2 separate regions of the Homo sapiens genome follow, and region 2 is linked to region 1. Evidence: fine-mapped expression QTL. Tissue or cell type: blood mononuclear cells. Region 1 holds a variant in brackets; the other region holds the start of a gene. All regions are shown on one strand. Distances are between the middles of the regions.

Evidence for each region. PIP is the estimated chance that this variant, and not a neighbour inherited with it, causes the effect.
Region 2: it holds the start of PPIL4, and the variant in region 1 is fine-mapped to the expression of PPIL4 in blood mononuclear cells (TOPMed, PIP 0.98).

What each region holds. Positions count from the first base shown.
Region 1 is chr6:149,508,259-149,516,625 of GRCh38, forward strand. It overlaps PPIL4 (peptidylprolyl isomerase like 4), which reads right to left. Exons shown (of 13, transcript NM_139126.4): 12 at 3,897-4,044. Among named protein-coding and RNA genes, the nearest start is that of ZC3H12D, 27 kb to the left of the region's middle. The variant C/T (reference allele first, on the strand shown) is at 3,357.
Region 2 is chr6:149,542,156-149,550,155 of GRCh38, forward strand. It overlaps PPIL4 (peptidylprolyl isomerase like 4), which reads right to left and starts at 3,888. Exons shown (of 13, transcript NM_139126.4): 1 at 3,781-3,888. The coding sequence starts at 3,850. RefSeq lists enhancers at 3,778-4,077, 4,781-5,457.

The DNA of each region.
Region 1 (8,367 bases):
CTCTCCCACTATAAAGGCCTAAGGGCCTGTGGGATCAGTATCTTCATATCTAAAGTGAGATAAATGAATTAGATAAGGTCTAGGTCCTTTCCAGTATGAATTTTTAAAAGTTATATTATTTATACATTTAAAACATAAGACAAGATGATTAAACTACCATGTGGCAAAAAAAGAAAAGAAAAAACGAAGAACACAAAATGGCCAATTTAAAGCAATTAACCTAGCAAATGACTTGAAATAAGCAATCAAAAAAAGTCTAATCTAATTAAAAGCTATCCTTGCTCAAGTCTCTGGGACTAAATCAAAGATCTGGTTAAATCTTAGTCACCAAGATAACATTAAATCACTAAAATGACAGAAAAAGTACAGTCAAGAATACAAACACTATGAAAACCCCAGTGGAAAACTGACAACCAGCATGAATACTTCTCAGCAAGGCAACCCCCAGCTGAATACGCATTTCCTGTAACCCCAGTAAAACCCAAACCTCAACAACACAAAAACCATCTCTGGAATTAAGACATGAGGTGGAAAATTAAACAAACGTTTTCGAATTGATTAGTAAGGCTAGTTACTCAATAAAAAACAAAGAATTTGAAGAAATAAGTTAAAATACTCTTGGGAAACCAGACTCACTAAGCAAAACACCGACAAACAGGAAAATATGAACTATAGCTGAAATTTGTCTAGTACTGAAAATTCTCTTTAATGAATTTTAAAAAATAAAAAACAAAATAATAAAAAATCGGGGGGCCATTAAAATCTTAAATACTGATGCTGAGTTTTATTAGGAAGAAGAGAAAATTAATGTAGCTATATCATTAAATCAAAGTACAAAACTTTTTAAAATTTAATATACTTTAAGGGGAGAAGTTAGGAGATCATTATTCAGAATTTAATAATTTTATAGTTAATATTGCCTTAAAATTTCAACTTAAAATTGCCTTAAAATCTTTTTAAAAATACTAATAGCATTCCCCCAAAATCTTGATGCTTTTACTCCATGCAAAATGAGAAGGATATTTGCTACTGTAAGGTTTCAAGTAATCAAACAGCAGAATCAGAAAGACTCACACAAAAAAAACACAACCAGTCTGAAATTTTTTAGACCTCTGATTATCTCAAACACACCAATGTTTATTTATCTCAGGCTTAAATTCATGGACGGTTCCATGTACAAGTGCAGGATGAAAAGCTGGAGCTAAAAGCAGCACATGGAGGGGGAAAGAATTCAGAGTTTTTAGTGGAAAACATGCTAAACATTCACAGGAATGTGATACAGCCACCAGTAAAGAAGACTGATGCGACCTCAGACTAAAGTAATAGAGTACAGACATTTAAGAAGGAGGAGATGTGTTCCTATTAGATCACATTGGAATATTATACTATGGGACAAATTTTATTAAAATAACATTAGAGTTTAGGAAAGAAAACTGATGAGAATATACCCCAGGTAAGAAGACGAGCAAAAGTAGTTAGGAGTATGTTTCAAGTTAAGAGTAGTTAGTTTCAACTATGAAACTAAACTGTGGTTCCACTACTTACTAGCTGTGTAAAACTATGGGCAAGTAACAATTTTTGTTCTCACTTTGTTGTGTGAAAGGGGGATAAAAGAACCCACCTTACATTGTAAGGACCAAAAAATATTAACTACTACTACTTTTTTCTTTTATTTAAAATTTTTATAGAGACAGGGCCTCCTATGTTGCCCAGGCTGGTCTTGAACTCTGGGATCAAGCGATTCTCCTGCCTCAGCTTCCCAACATGCTGGGATTACAAGCATGAGCCACTGCACCTGGCCTACTACTACTTTTATTACCACCGATTCATGTGAGAAATATTTGCAGGAACCAACAAAAGTATGGCCTGAAAACGGGATGAGGCATGAATGATGGCAATCTTTAAACAGCTAAAGGGCTATAGAAAGAAGAAATTCTATCTCTGCTGGATTATAGCAAAGAGCTAACTACATATATCAAATATTTACTTGCTAAATTTTTTTAAATCAATAACCCATAAAACACATAAAATAGTTACCCACAGAGGGAAGAAGGAAAAGGGGAGGGAACAAGAATGGAAGCTAGGTTCTCTAAATGTACCATTTTGTAGATTTCACTTTGGAAACAGTTTTTAAAACTACAAAACAAAAAATTGTTAAAGCAACCCTTAAAACATTAAAAATAAATAAATAAAAATGAAACAGGGCCGGGCGCGGTGGCTCACGCCTATAATCCCAGCACTTTGGGAGGCTGAGGCAGGCAGATCACGAGGTCAGGAGTTCGAGACCAGCCTGGCCAACTTGGTGAAACTCCATCTCTAGTAAAAATACAAAAATCAGCCAGGCATGATGGCAGGTGCCTGTAATCCCACCTACTCGGGAGGCTGAGGCAGGAGAATCGCTTGAACCCAGGAGGCGGAGGTTGCAGTGAGCCGAGATTGCACCATTGCACTCCAGCCTGGGCAACAAGAGCAAAACTCCGTCTCAAAAAAAAGAAAGAAAAGAAACACTTTAACTGAAATATGAATCTAGTTAATGTCATAACCACAGAGAGAAACTATTCCAAGTAACTCTAAAACTAGTAATTTGCTTTAACAGTTAAAAAAAAAAAGTAGTAACAATAATAACCAGTGTAGAAAATGTTTGCACACGCATTTTTTTCACTGAATCTTAACAAAATGCCTGTGAAGTATTTCTCACTTTTCACAGAGGATGAAACTGTGGCTCAGAAAGTTAAACAACTTGTCAAGGTCACTTTGATGGCCAGCAGTATGTAAACCTAGCTCTCCTGACAGCAAATCCTTGACTCTGCCTATCATACTACATTTCTCTATTTCTGCATCTTTGGTTAACATTCTCACCATCTTAAATTCCCTCCCTTCTCACCTCAGCCCACTGAAATCCTTCTCATCCACCAGGGCCCAGCATAAATGTTTCTATGTGGTAAAACAAAAGCAAGGAGCTCTGATGTAAAAAAAAAAAAAAAATTTTTTTTGGAGACGTGGTCTGGCTCTGTCATCCAGGCTGGAGGGCAGTGGCATGATCTGGGCTCACTGCAGCCTCTACCTCCTGGGCTCAAGCGATCCTCTCAAGCTCCCAAGTAGCTGAGACCATAGGTGCACACCACCATGCCTGGCCAATTGTGTGTGTGTGTGTGTGTGTGTACTTTTTGTCAAGGTGTGTGTGTGTGTATTTTTTGTCGAGATGGGGGTTTCACCATGTTGCCCAGGCTGGTCTCCAACTCTTAAGCTCAAGCGATCTACCTGCCTCGGCCTCCCAAAGTGCTAGGATTACAGGCGTGAGCCACCGTACCCAGCCTGTAAATTGCTTTTTATTTAACTAAGAACCAAAGCACAGG[C/T]TGGAAATAATCACTTTTCTTCACAATAAATTTTCTTTGGGGAATTTTTATTATTTTTTTTAAATGTGCTGTTCAGGAGAGCTTTTAGCATGCTAAAGTTAATTACCAGTGCTGTTTTTCTTATATACAATACAGCAGGATATAAATGTTTTATAGGATGTAAAATCTCAAGAGCCCTTAAGTGCTATACATAACACTTGGTGATAAATTAAGCAGATAAATGACAAAATCTTTTTCAGCACAACCACACTTGTTTCTGATGGGAATAAAGGAGTATCCACAGGTACGGAAATCACTCTTGCTTCACAATGTGGAAGTATTTGATACATTAAGTTATGTCAAAAATGATCTTTTATCATTTGTGATAAATATTTTTGAAAATTAAAATCCCATACCCCAGTGCAACCATTCTGCTTCTTAGGAACAAACCCATCTCTGCTTAGAACTATCCCTTACCTCCTAAATTATATCACTAAGACATCATTTACAGAGGGATAAAATATTTATTTCTCCACATCTAAGTCTGGACATTAGAGGTACCTGATTAGTATTTTTGATTGGCATGTAGTCCTCATCTTCTTTCTCTTCAGAACAGTGATGGGTTTTCTTCTTGTGTTTTTTACTTGTGTGTGAGTGACTTGATTTTGAGTCTTCGGCCTGCTCATCTAATATAAGATCGTATTTTGTACTGCAGTAGTTAGTTAAGGATAAATGTGATAAATAATACTGGTAAGACATCAAAACTTAAGATCTGGTAAACAAAGGAGGTCATAAGGCTAAAAGTAACTAAAGCAAAAAGCATCTCAAAAGAATATAGTACATTTCTAAAACAAAACTAACATTTTCTTTCATTATATAGTCAGGAGAAATGGAAAGAATCCTAATCCTAAACAATCTTAAAATAAAGACTAGTAGGCAAAAAAATTAGGAGGAAAAAATAAACGTATTTGTCAATAATTTAAAAAATTTAAATTTAGAAAATGAGGGACATCTTTAACTAGAAAAAATTATTATAAATTCCAATGCCCAGAAAAGCTATATAAGATAACAGGTACATTTGTATGTCTCTTCTTTTAGTTCAATCAAGAGGAAATTCAGCAATGCATATCGAGTTATCATGTTTAAATTCTTCTTATTATTTTTTTTGAGACGGAGTCTTGCCCTGTTGCCCGAGCTGGAGTGCAGTGGCGCGATCTCAGCTCACTGCAACCTCCGCCTCTCAGGTTCAAGCAATTCTCCTGCCTCAGCCTCCCGAGTAGCTGGGACTACAGGCACATGCCACCACGCCTGACTAATTTTTTGTGTCTTTAGTAGAAACGGGGCTTCCCCATGTTGGCCAGGCTGGTCTCAAACACCTGACCTCGTGATCCACCCGCCTCGGCCTCCCAAAGTGCTGGGATTACAGGTGTGAGCCACCACACCTGCCCATCATGTTTAAATTCTAATAAGAATTTATGAATACAGTTAAATGAACAAAAATATACATAAAAGCCAGGCGTGGTGGCTCACACCTGTAATCCCAGCACTTTGGGAAGCCAAGGCGGGCGACTCACTCGAGGCCAGGAGTTCGAGACCAGCCTGGCCAATATGGTGAAACCCCATCTCTACTAAAAATACAAAAATTAGCCGGGCATGGTGGCGCAACCTATAACCCCAGCTACTCGGGAGGCTGAGGCAGGAAAATCATTTGAACCCAGGAGGTAGAGACTTTTGTGAGCCGAGGTTGCACTACTGCACTCCAGCCTGGGTGACAGAGCGGGGACTCAGTCTCAAAAAAAAAAAAAAAAAAAAAAAAAAAATATATATATATATATATATATATATACATATAAAAAATATGCATAATAGTATTACTTTTAGTAGCAAAGTAGGAACAACAAAATATCTAGTAATAAAGACATACTTAAATGCATTATAGTACTTCAACAAGATACAATATTATAAATGAAGTTATCAACAACGATAAATGCTACAGAAAAAACCCTAGAAAGGTGTTTATGAAAATTAACATGAAAAAAGCTTAAAGCAAAAACAACATATACCATACAACGATTATAACTTTACATAAGAGAAAGGTTTGAAAGAAACAAGGAGAAATAAAAAGTATCATGTGTCTAGGTGATGAAGCTACGAGTGAATCTTTTTAAATTTCATCTAAATGTGTTAAAAATGTTTTAATGTTTTAATTCAGAGATAAGTATTTTCTTAAATATACTATAATAGAATAAGAGAAAATATAAAAGAGTTACGATTTCTGCTGAAAATAATCTCAACCTCAAAGGTGGATTTTGAGGAAGACTGACATGGGCTGGAATGGTGGTTTTCCAGAGAAAGGTTATGAGGAAGCCCAACAGGCAGAGCTATGCTAATTACATGTGGGACCACAGTAAACGCAGACACACTTCCCTCAGGACTAGAGGCTCGTGTCTGCTTCACAAAGCCACAACTCAACACTTTCCACAGGAATGTCTCACTTCTACATAAGATCAAATGAAAGACATTGTTCCTCCTAGCTTCCCATGAGATGGCTAAAGAGGGTTAGTCAGCTCGTACCATTCGGTTATGACTCCATTATCTCCAACTTCCCTCTTTTCACTATGCTACTCTGTTTCCGGGGCATCTTCTGGATCTTGCCTTTTCCAGATACACATTCCATAGCTCCCACCTATGATTTCATCCTAATGTGTGCTCTGCACATGCTGCTCCCTCTGTCCAAATTCTTCAGAGCACTCAGTCTTGCTCTGTTGCCCAGGCTGGAGTGCAGTGGCCTGATCTTGGCTCCCTGCAACCACCCCATCCAGGGTTCAAGCAATTCTCCTGCCTCAGCCTCCCAAGTAGCTGTGATTACAAGTGCACACCACCACACCCAGCTAATTTTCGTATTTTTAGTCGAGACAGGGTTTCGCCACGTTGGCCAGGCTGGTCTCAAACTCCTGACCTCAAATGATCCACCTGCCTCAGTCTCCCAAAGTGCTGGGATTACAGGCATGAGCCACTGCGCCTGGCTCAGAGCAATGTTTTTCAAACTGATGACTATAATCCATCAATGGGGTATAAAATCTATTTAGTGGGCCACAACAGCATTTAAAAAAAAAAACAGAAATACAGTATATGCCTAAAAAAATTTTATTTTATTAATCTTTTGGTTCAAGTGTGTGTGTGTGTGTGTGTGTGTGAATGTTTGTACTGTGACTGTATTGGGTTAAGACAAAAACTGTATTTTTTTTAATTTTTTTTTTGAGACGGAGTTTCACTCTTGTTGCCCAGGCTGGAGTACAATGGCGCGATCTTGGCTCACCACAACCTCTGCCTCCTGGGTTCAAGCAATTCTCCTGCCTCAGCCTCCCGAGTAGCTGGGATTACAGGCATCCGCCACCACGCCTGGCTAATTTTTTGTATTTTTAGTAGAGACGGAGTTTCTGCATGTTGGCCAGGCTGGTCTTGAACTCCCGACCTCGGGTGATCTGCCCGCCTCGGCCTCCCAGAGTGCTGGGATTATAGGCATGAGCCACTGCACCCAGCCAATTTTTTTTTTTTTTTTAAGAAAAAAAAAATGGAGACCGGGTCTCGCTATATTGCCCTGGCTGCTCTCAAACTTCTGGGCTCCAGCAATCCTCCCACCTCGGCCTCCCACACTGCTGGGATTACAGGCATGAGCCACTGCACCCAGCCTATTTCTTAAATGATGGATCATACGAAAGAAGACAGCACTCCCATGAGCCACTGCACCCAGCCTATTTCTTAAATGATGGATCATACGAAAGAAGACAGCACTCCACCTCAGCCCTCCTATCTCCCATATTAGTGTCACAGCTTTAATGCCACTTTTTTCAGTGTTGAGGGTATTCTCTAACCTCTCGCCCCCTATTATGAGTCCCATATCTCTTTGCAATATTTATTTGCAATAATTTAGACGTATTTAGAATGGTAATTATTTAATGTCTGGTTTTTTTTCCCCACTCCAACAGCAAAATGTAAGCTCTATGTGGGCAGGAACTGAATATCTTTCATTGCTAAACTGAGTATGTGACAGATGCTTACTAAGTATCTGTTGATTACTTGTCATACCCTCAAGACACTTGTTGTATCTCCTGCTTCCTCACTTACCCACTATCTTGTACTTATCACTAAAATCAACACTTTCAGAAGACATCAAATCCCTCTCCCTTTGAATAAAACACAAATTTGTGAGCTCACTGCCATCTTTTCTCCAATTTCTTCCCTGAGGTCTAGTTGGGCCAAGTTATTTCCTTCTCCTACTTCTATTTTTGATTCTTCTTATTAATAATCTATACTTTCACTAATTTCTCTTTCTCTTAAGGCCCATAAAGTAGATGCCACCATGCCTTCTTAACTGACTTAAGACAATTTATCTGCACATCAGACTATCCCCTAACAGCATTTCTCTCTTTTGCATCAACTTCAAAAGGCTAGAAGCTACACTATTCCATATAAGTATATGTGTGGTTGTTTCAATTAATTAAAATTAAAGAAAACTTAAAATTCCCCTTCTTCCAGCTATAGTTATTAGTAATAAGCCTAAATTTAATTTCAAAGATTTGGTAAATAAATATCAAATGTATTCCATTCATAACTTTTATGATTTTGAGCTTTCAATCATATGCCCTTGAATGTTGATCTTTTCTGACCAAATCTCAGCTTCTTATTTGGTCTGTCTGCATGTGAAAGCCTCTCCTTATGCTGATTTTATCAGCTTTCTTCAGACTTTATCCAGTTCTAACACCTCACAATGCTTTATACATTGCAGACAATCAACACATCTTAAAACATGAATATAGACCAGGTCAACCTGATATTCATCTTTCTTGATGAGTACTTGGAAAAGAAATGTCTACATATGTAGAAAAAAAAATCCCTGAAATACCAATAGAAACTAGGAAACAAAGACACCATTTACCAGAAAGAATCACAACAGAAATAACTCTTGCAATGTGTGGAGTGATATATTTATAATGGGAAAAATTAGTGAACCAATTTAAATGTCATAATA
Region 2 (8,000 bases), 34 kb after region 1:
TGATGGATTGATTTTATTACGAGAAAAAAGAACACTTAAAGAGCATATTGTAGTAGAAAAGGATCTAGCAGAATATATAAAAATGGATACGGATTATATCAATTAGGAAAAAGTCAAACACCCGGGGTCATTTTTTAAATAATAGTTAAACAGCCCTTTATAAAAATCCATACACTTATGAACAACCTTTCTCATACAAGTTAATCTGCTTATCCAATAAACATTTACTGAGTACCTTCTAGATGCCTGACACTGCCATCACAAATGCCATTAAACTGTGGTCCCTGCTCCCAAAAAGTTCACAGTCTAGTCGTGGAAAGACACATTAACAAGCTCTTAAGGCACTAAGTTAGAAACCAAACAGACAGTAAGATATATGAGGCAATCCCTGCCCTCAAAAAGCTTACATTAAATTAGGGTCCTTACATCTGAACACAAGTAGTTACATACTGGGCATATCTAATTAATAACATGTGTGCCACTTATTTAAAATGGTAAAAAAAGTAGTTTTAAAAATTCCACAAGAGTTCAAAAGATTGTTTCTGGCTAGGGAAATTAGAAAACCTCAGGGAAGGTTAAGGCAAGCATTAAAAGAACTGGACTAGCAGAGAGTGAAGGGTGAGCATTTTAGGTCTGGAAGACTATGAAAAGGCCTGGAAGTGGAAATTTAAATGTTTTAGGGGAGGTCCAAAACACCAAAGTTCTGTAATAGTCTGGTATTACACAGTAATAGAGCATGAAAAGACTGGAGAGATAAGATGGGGCTGAGCTGTTGAAGAGTGCTGAATATCAGTCTTGCAGTTGTTTTTCTTGAATATATTTCTGGGCTTCATGTTTAACAGATAGGGGTGGTCCTTTTACTAGAAACAAAAATAATGAATTTAGGCAATGATCATCAATGGCTGCCAAAATCTTTAGGTCTTTCATCAAAATCCGATGGGAACAATTTATAAGCGCAACAAGGCCTTAACCCACTGACCAATTTTAACATCACAGAGCCAACCAGACATCAAGTGCCTCCTGAATGTGATGCAGCTGAAAGTACACACTATCTTATATGAAATATTCTTGCCAAAAACATTAAACTGGAACCTAATCAAGGCTCTGAAGCTAAAGAACAATTTATAGGAAACAGGGGACACAAAAATATGTTAACGCACCCAGTAAATAATCAGTCGAATCCAAACAAGAGAAATTCTACAAGACAAAGCACCCAGGTTGTTTCTCAAAATTTTTTCAAGGAAAAAAGGGGGAGAACCAATAGATTAAAACATATATGAGACATTTTAACCAATATATGGACTTTGGGTCCTAATTTAAATCACCATATTTTTTAGAAGTTTATGAGATAATAAGAAAGTTTAAATGATACTAAAAATTATTGCTAGTTTTTTCAAAGTGTGATAAGATCTGTGGTTCTGTTTTTTTATTCTTTTTTACAACTTTTTCTCTTTCCTTTAGTATTTTTCCCTTTTCCCTGTCAAGTTTTTTTTCTTTTTTAACCTGTCACTTATGTGGTACTTAAGCTCATAGTTCCATTTTTTCTTGTTTTTTTTAAAGAGACGTTATATTTTAGAAATACATACTGAAGTAATTACAGATTAAATAGATGCACTGGAGGTGGGGGTATTATAAATGAAGCAAGATTGGCTATGTGTTCACAGCTGTTAAACAAAGCTGGTCATGTGGACATGAGAGTTCATTTACATGATTCTCTCTACATCTGTGTTTTAAATTTTCTATAATAAAAAGTTAAAAAAGAAAAGGAAGAAAGAATGGAAGGTAGGTAAGTCTGGATATGTTGATCATAGATTGATAAGTGAGTATAAATATAGCAGGTACACATGTAAGCACATCTCCAGTCATATGCTTACAAATATGTACAGGGGGTGGACTTATTGTTATGGGCTTATCTTTGCAGACCCACTGCTTGTTAATTGGGTGGGGTAGCTCTACACCCCTTTATTTCCTCATAACTCTGGGAAAAGAGGCCCATTTATTTTGCCAGGTGCTACTCTACATGGGCAGAGCGTCAAAGGAACTCAAAGAAAAGCAAAATCAAGAGATAAAAAACAAAATTCCCTATGATATTCTTTGAAACACTCGATCCAGCCACTCGATCCAAGCTTACCCCAGTATTATGAGGCAACCAATTATTTTGTTTATGCCAGTTTGAGTTGGGTTTCTATCACTTGAACAAAGGGTCCTAACTAATACAACACATTTATATCCATTAGTCATCATAATGAACCTCTAGTGTGTGCCCTAAAAGTAGCAGACATTGTACTGGGTACTCAGGATATAGAGATGATAATTATGGTATAGTTCCTGCTCTCATTGGAGTTTACATTCTTGAGCGAGGGCACGCTTGTAAACAACACCAGGATAATAGGTAAATGTTAAAATAAAATGTGTCATGTGGTTTATAAAAGACCTAAGACACAGCAGAGGAACCCTCAGGTAACTCTGCTTAGAAAGGAGGGAGAGCTTCAAAGAAGAGATGATGCTTGATCTGAGATTTAGATAATAAGTAGTAAGTTTGCCAGAAGGACAATAGTGGAGAAGAATATTGTTTAGAAGAAACAGCAAAAGAATGGTAACAATGGTACGGGAGAGTTTGTAGTGTTTTCGCCAGGTGGAGAGGAGGGAGGAATAGCTGCGTGCGAGGGAAAGCGGAGCACGGCAGGAGGTAGTTATTGTACAATATTGCAACTTATTTCACCTTCTTTGATAGGCTCTGCATTCCATGTGGGTAGGACCCTGTTTGTAACTAATCTCTCCTGGTCTCAGTTTCTTCCTGACTCTGATACATTCTCCACACCGCTGCCTATTATCTTCTCAAAACAAGTATGCCATGCCTCAATCCTGCTTTTAAAGTCTTCAAGGACTCTGATCATCAGTAGGGCACACAAGACTATTCACGACTGACCTAGGCGTATCTGACCACACTCGAGTCTACCATTCCACGACTCACACCAGTCCTTCCAGCCACACCAAACTACTTGCCGTTTCCAGAAAATTCCAAACAAAGAAAGTCCAAGCTAAGAAAACCCTCATTCCCATTCATCTTTGAAAGAACTAGTTCAAGTGTTCTATATAGTATTCGCTAGCTTTGCTTCTTCCCACCCCCCACCAAAGAAGCCGCCCTCTTCTGGTTTCCGTGGCAACTTACACATTCTTCTACCATAACACATAGAAAACTAAAATGGGTTCCTGTGTCTACTTCCCCCAGTGGAAAAATCAGACCCTCGGGGGCAAGAAGCCAAGCCCAGGACTTAGCCCAGTGCCTCGAAGGCTCAGTCCACACTCCAGACAACCTCTTCCTCCTCCACCTAAGCGGTATGCCCACACTCGCTGCGCCAAGCACACCCTAACTGCCTTCATCAAGATTTAACCGATTACACACCAAGCAATAGTTCCTATGTTCCTCTCACGAGTAAACACAATAAAGGCACAAAAGCTATGGGTATTGTATGTGCAGCTCGAATCACACACACACACGCCCCACACACACACTCCCAAAGGCAATTAATGACCGCAAGCACCGTCCACCGGACTGGCCAACACAAAATACGGGAGAAGGGCTGCCAAGGCTCAAACGAATTCCCGTCACAAAAACTTTTCTAGCCAAGGCCGGTTAATAAAATAGCCCAGTCGCGGGCACCAGCAGCCCAGAAGCTCGAGCTCTAGCCAATCTCTGCCCTGGACTGCGCAGAGAAGGGAAAGTAGGGAGACAAGCTCGGGGGCCCCGGCGACAGGTGAGTGGGGCTCAAGCCTCACCACGCGGCCGTTCTTCGGTGTACAAGTCGATGACGACGTCGCCTAAAGTGGTCTCCAGTAGAACCGCCATGGCGCCCGCTCCTCCTCCGCTACAAACCCCGGGAGGAGGGGGGTGACAGGCGCAGGCCGACGGCGTCGTCTACGCCACGCGTCACCCTCGGCGCGACCCCTTTTGCGTCATCTCGCCGGCGCCGCCCCCGGTTCCGAGCAGTTCCTTCCGGTCGGCGTGCGGGCGCCGGGCTGCCCAGCTGACTTACGGATCGGGTTGGTCCCGCCCCCGGCGCGGCCGTTTTGAAAATCCTGGTCCGCCCTTGGCGATTTTGGTGGAAGCCTGTCCCTCAGAACGGTCTCAGTATAGTGTTTTGTGCCCCGTTTGTGTCCGTCTCAAGAGCAGAGCGGCCCTCCGCGCGGCCCTTTTATCCACCAGGGGGCGCCCGCGGCGGGATCTTCTCTCCACCTATTTGGGCGGACTCCTCCGGGTTTCCTCGTCAGTCTCCTTTTCGCAAAACAACTTTGGGCCTCTACTAGGGGTTTCCGATTCTAAGAACTAACATTTTGTTTTGTTTTCTGTTTTGAGACAGGGTCTCGCTCTGTTGCCCAGGCTGGAGTGCAGTGGCGCGATGTCGGCTCACTGCAACCTCCACCTCCCGGGCTCCAGCGATTTTCCTGTCTCAGCCTCCCAAGTGACCACAGGCGCGCGCCACCACGCCCGGCTAATTTTGTTCTTTTATTTTTTGTAGAGATGGCGGTCGGGGGAGGTGGTCTCACTATGTTGCTCAGACTGGTCTCAAACTCCTGAGCTCAAGGAGTTCGAACTCTTCCCGCCTTGGCCTCCCGAAGTGCTGAGATTACTGGCGTGAGCCACTGCGCCTGGCCAAAACTAACATTTTGCCATGCAAGTTTATTCCCCAGACACTCTTCTGGGCAAGCCTGTCACTCTTTCTTATGACATTTTACACATAATCTCCAATAACTTCACATCTGACGAAAAGCCAAAGCTTTTTTTTTTTTTTTTTTTTTTGAGACGGAGTCTCGCTCTGTCGCCCAGTCTAGAGTGCAGTGGCGCGATCTCGGCTCACTGCAAGCTCCGCCTCCCGGGTTCACCCCATTCTCCTGCCTCCGCCTCCCGAGTTGCTGGGGCTACAGGTGTCCGCCATCACGCCCGGCTAATTTTTTGTGTTTTTAGTAGAGACCGGGTTTCACCGTGTTAGCCAGGATGGTCTCGACCTCCTGACCTCGTGGATCCGCCCGCCTCCGCCTCCCAAAGTGCTGGGATTACAGGCTTGAGCCACCGCACCTGGCGGAAAAGCCAGAGCTTTTATAATGATTTACAAGATCCTCTCCTACCCCATCCTACGCCATCTTCTTATTCCTCTGAAGCCACAGTAGACAGTTTGCTATTCCCTGAACACTGCTGACATACTCCTGCCCCATGGCCTTTTCACTTGCCTTGGTTGAGGGACCTCTTCCTCCAGTTATTTGTATGGCTCCCATTCACCTCCTTCAGGCGCTTTGGCGTCGGTCACCCTGTCAGTGAGGCCCTCCATGGCTGCCATAATTAAAATTAACCCCACAGACACTTCTTTTTCTCCATATAGCTTTTTCTCCAGAGTACATTTTACAATCTAACATGCTATTTACGAATTTGTTTGTTTGTTTATTGTTACTAGAATGTGTGTTCCAGGATATTCCATCTTGTCTGTTTTGTTTAAAGCTATATCCCTAATGCGTATGACAGCCTGGTACACAATGTGCAAATAAATGTTTGTTGAATGAATAAATATGGTTTTTCGGTTTGGGTTTTTTTTTTTTTTTTTGAGACGGAGTCTCGATCTGTTGCCCAGGCTTGAGTGCAGTGGTGCGATTTCAGGTCACTACAACCTCCGCCTCCTGGGTTCAAGCGATTCTCCTGCCTCAGCCTCCCCAGTAGCTGGGGCTACAGGTGCCCGCCACAGCGACTGCCACCACAATATTCATGGCTGGGCGTGGTGGCTCATGCCTGTAATCCCAGCACTTTGGGAGGCCGAGGTGGGCGGATCACCTGAGGTCAGGAATTTGAGACCAGCCGGGCCCATCATGGTGAAACCCCGTCTCTAATAAAAAATACAAAAAAAAAAAAAAAAACTAGCTGGGTGTGGTAGCGCATGCCTGTAATCCCAGCTACCCAGGAGGCTGAGGCAGGAGAACTGCTTGAACACGGAAGGTGGAGGTTGCAGTGAGCCGGGATTGCGCCACTGCACTCCAGCCTGGGTGACAGAGCGAGACTCCGTCTCGAGGAAAAAAAAAAAAAAGAAAGTGCTCCCATACCATGTTCCATTTATGCCTGATATGTGTTTAAGGGTTAAAAGTAAAGCCAACAAAGGGAATCCTAAGACTGTGAGTTCTGGGTCATTGTAAGGTTCCTCAGTGCTGTTGAACTGAGCAAACCATTTAGGACAGACCCAACAATTAGTCTTGTTGTAGAAATGGGCCATGGCGGATATTGTAGGAGCTAAAGGGTGTGACGTATTACTAAGTCCCATAAAAAATCCTAACAGACCTAGTGATAGTAAAACACTCATGTTTACTGTTGGTTAATAACTGTTATTCCTGCTGTAAGGATAGTAATTAAGCAAAATGCTACAGTAATTGAGATTCTGTTCGATATTACACCCTGAGGGTGCTATAGTATATAGTAATACTTGGCTTAAAAGGAGAGGTAGAAACGGCAAAAAGTATTTGGTGAGGTAGAGGCGAGACTAAGGTGAGTGGTTCTTACTCCGTTACTTATCTTTTGTGATTTTCAGCTTATGGTCTCCTACTTCTTCGCATTGATATTCAGGTCATTTCTCTGGGCTGTCAGGGGTTGCTCCCTCAGCTTTCCAGGCTTTGACTCGAGTGTGATGTATCCAAAAGTTGATTCCTGTAACTTTTATTGCTGAGGGAGTTGAAAGAATGGTGTAAGGCCCTTCCCAGCTTGGGCTTAGGAAGAGAGAGAAGGGAGAGCCTTCACCAGTACCAAATCTCCTGGGTTAAATAGAGGTGGTCCAATTTCCTGGGGTTGGGGCTTTGCTAATTGTGCTAATTCCTGTTGCAAGTGAGCCAGAGAAGTTACCTGCTTGACTAGCTCAGAGGTTTCTTGATCTAATAGAAAATCATTGGTAAAGAAAGGTCATCCATACAGCATCTCAAAAGGGCTAAGACGAAGTTTTGAAGGGGTACTTTTTATTCGTAGTAAGGCCATAAGAAGAAGAGTGACCCAAGGAAGGTGAGTTTCTTGGGTTAATTTTCTGATGTGTCTCTTGATCATATCATTAGTTTTCTCTACCTTTCCTGAGGATGCGGGTCTTCAAGCACAGTGGAGATGGTATTCTATGCCTAGTGCTTTTGAGACCCCCTTGTGTGACAGCTGCCTTAAATGAGGGTCCATTGTCATTTTGAAGATACCTAGGTAGACCAAAGCGGGGAGTTATTTCATTAACTAACAAACACTTTTATTACCTCAGAGGCTTTTTCTGTACGGCATGGGAATGCCTCTACCCAGTTAGTGAAGGTGTCTGACCATACCAGCAGGTATTGGATGCCCTTTGTCTTCGGCATGTGGGTGAAGTCTATTTGGCAGTCTTCTCCTGGATAACCTCCTATTCTTTGGGGTTGAGGAGGAAGGAGTCGCCTGTTAAGGATTATTTTTAAGACAGACTTCACAAGCATTAACAACCTCCTTAACTGTTTTTAGTAAGTTATCTCCTGAAAACAATCTCTGGGCACATTGATATGTCTTATCCTTTCCCAGGTGAAAAGCTTGGTGAAGGACTTCAAGGACTTTCCATTGGCTAGAGGCTGGCAAGTGGAGCTTGCCATCCTCCGACTGTCACCATCCTGAGGGCCGAAATGTATACCCTCAAGAAGTGGCCCATTCTGCTTCTGTAGGGGAGTACTGAGGTTTAATTCCTCTGATGGAGCCTTCCCACACTAGAGGAGTTTGAAGTGTTAATGTCTTGAGGCTTTCTTGCCGCTGACTTAGCTGCCTGATCAGCTAATCTGTTTCCTTCAGCTACCTCATCTGTTCCCTTTTGATGTCCCCTACAATGCATTACTGCGATTTCTCATGGAAGGAAAACTGAGGATAGTAATGTATTAATTTCCTGGTGATATTTTATAGGGGATCCATTGGTGGTAAGAAAACGCCTTTCCAGGCCGGGCATGGTGGCTCACGCCTATAATCCCAGCACTTTGGGAGG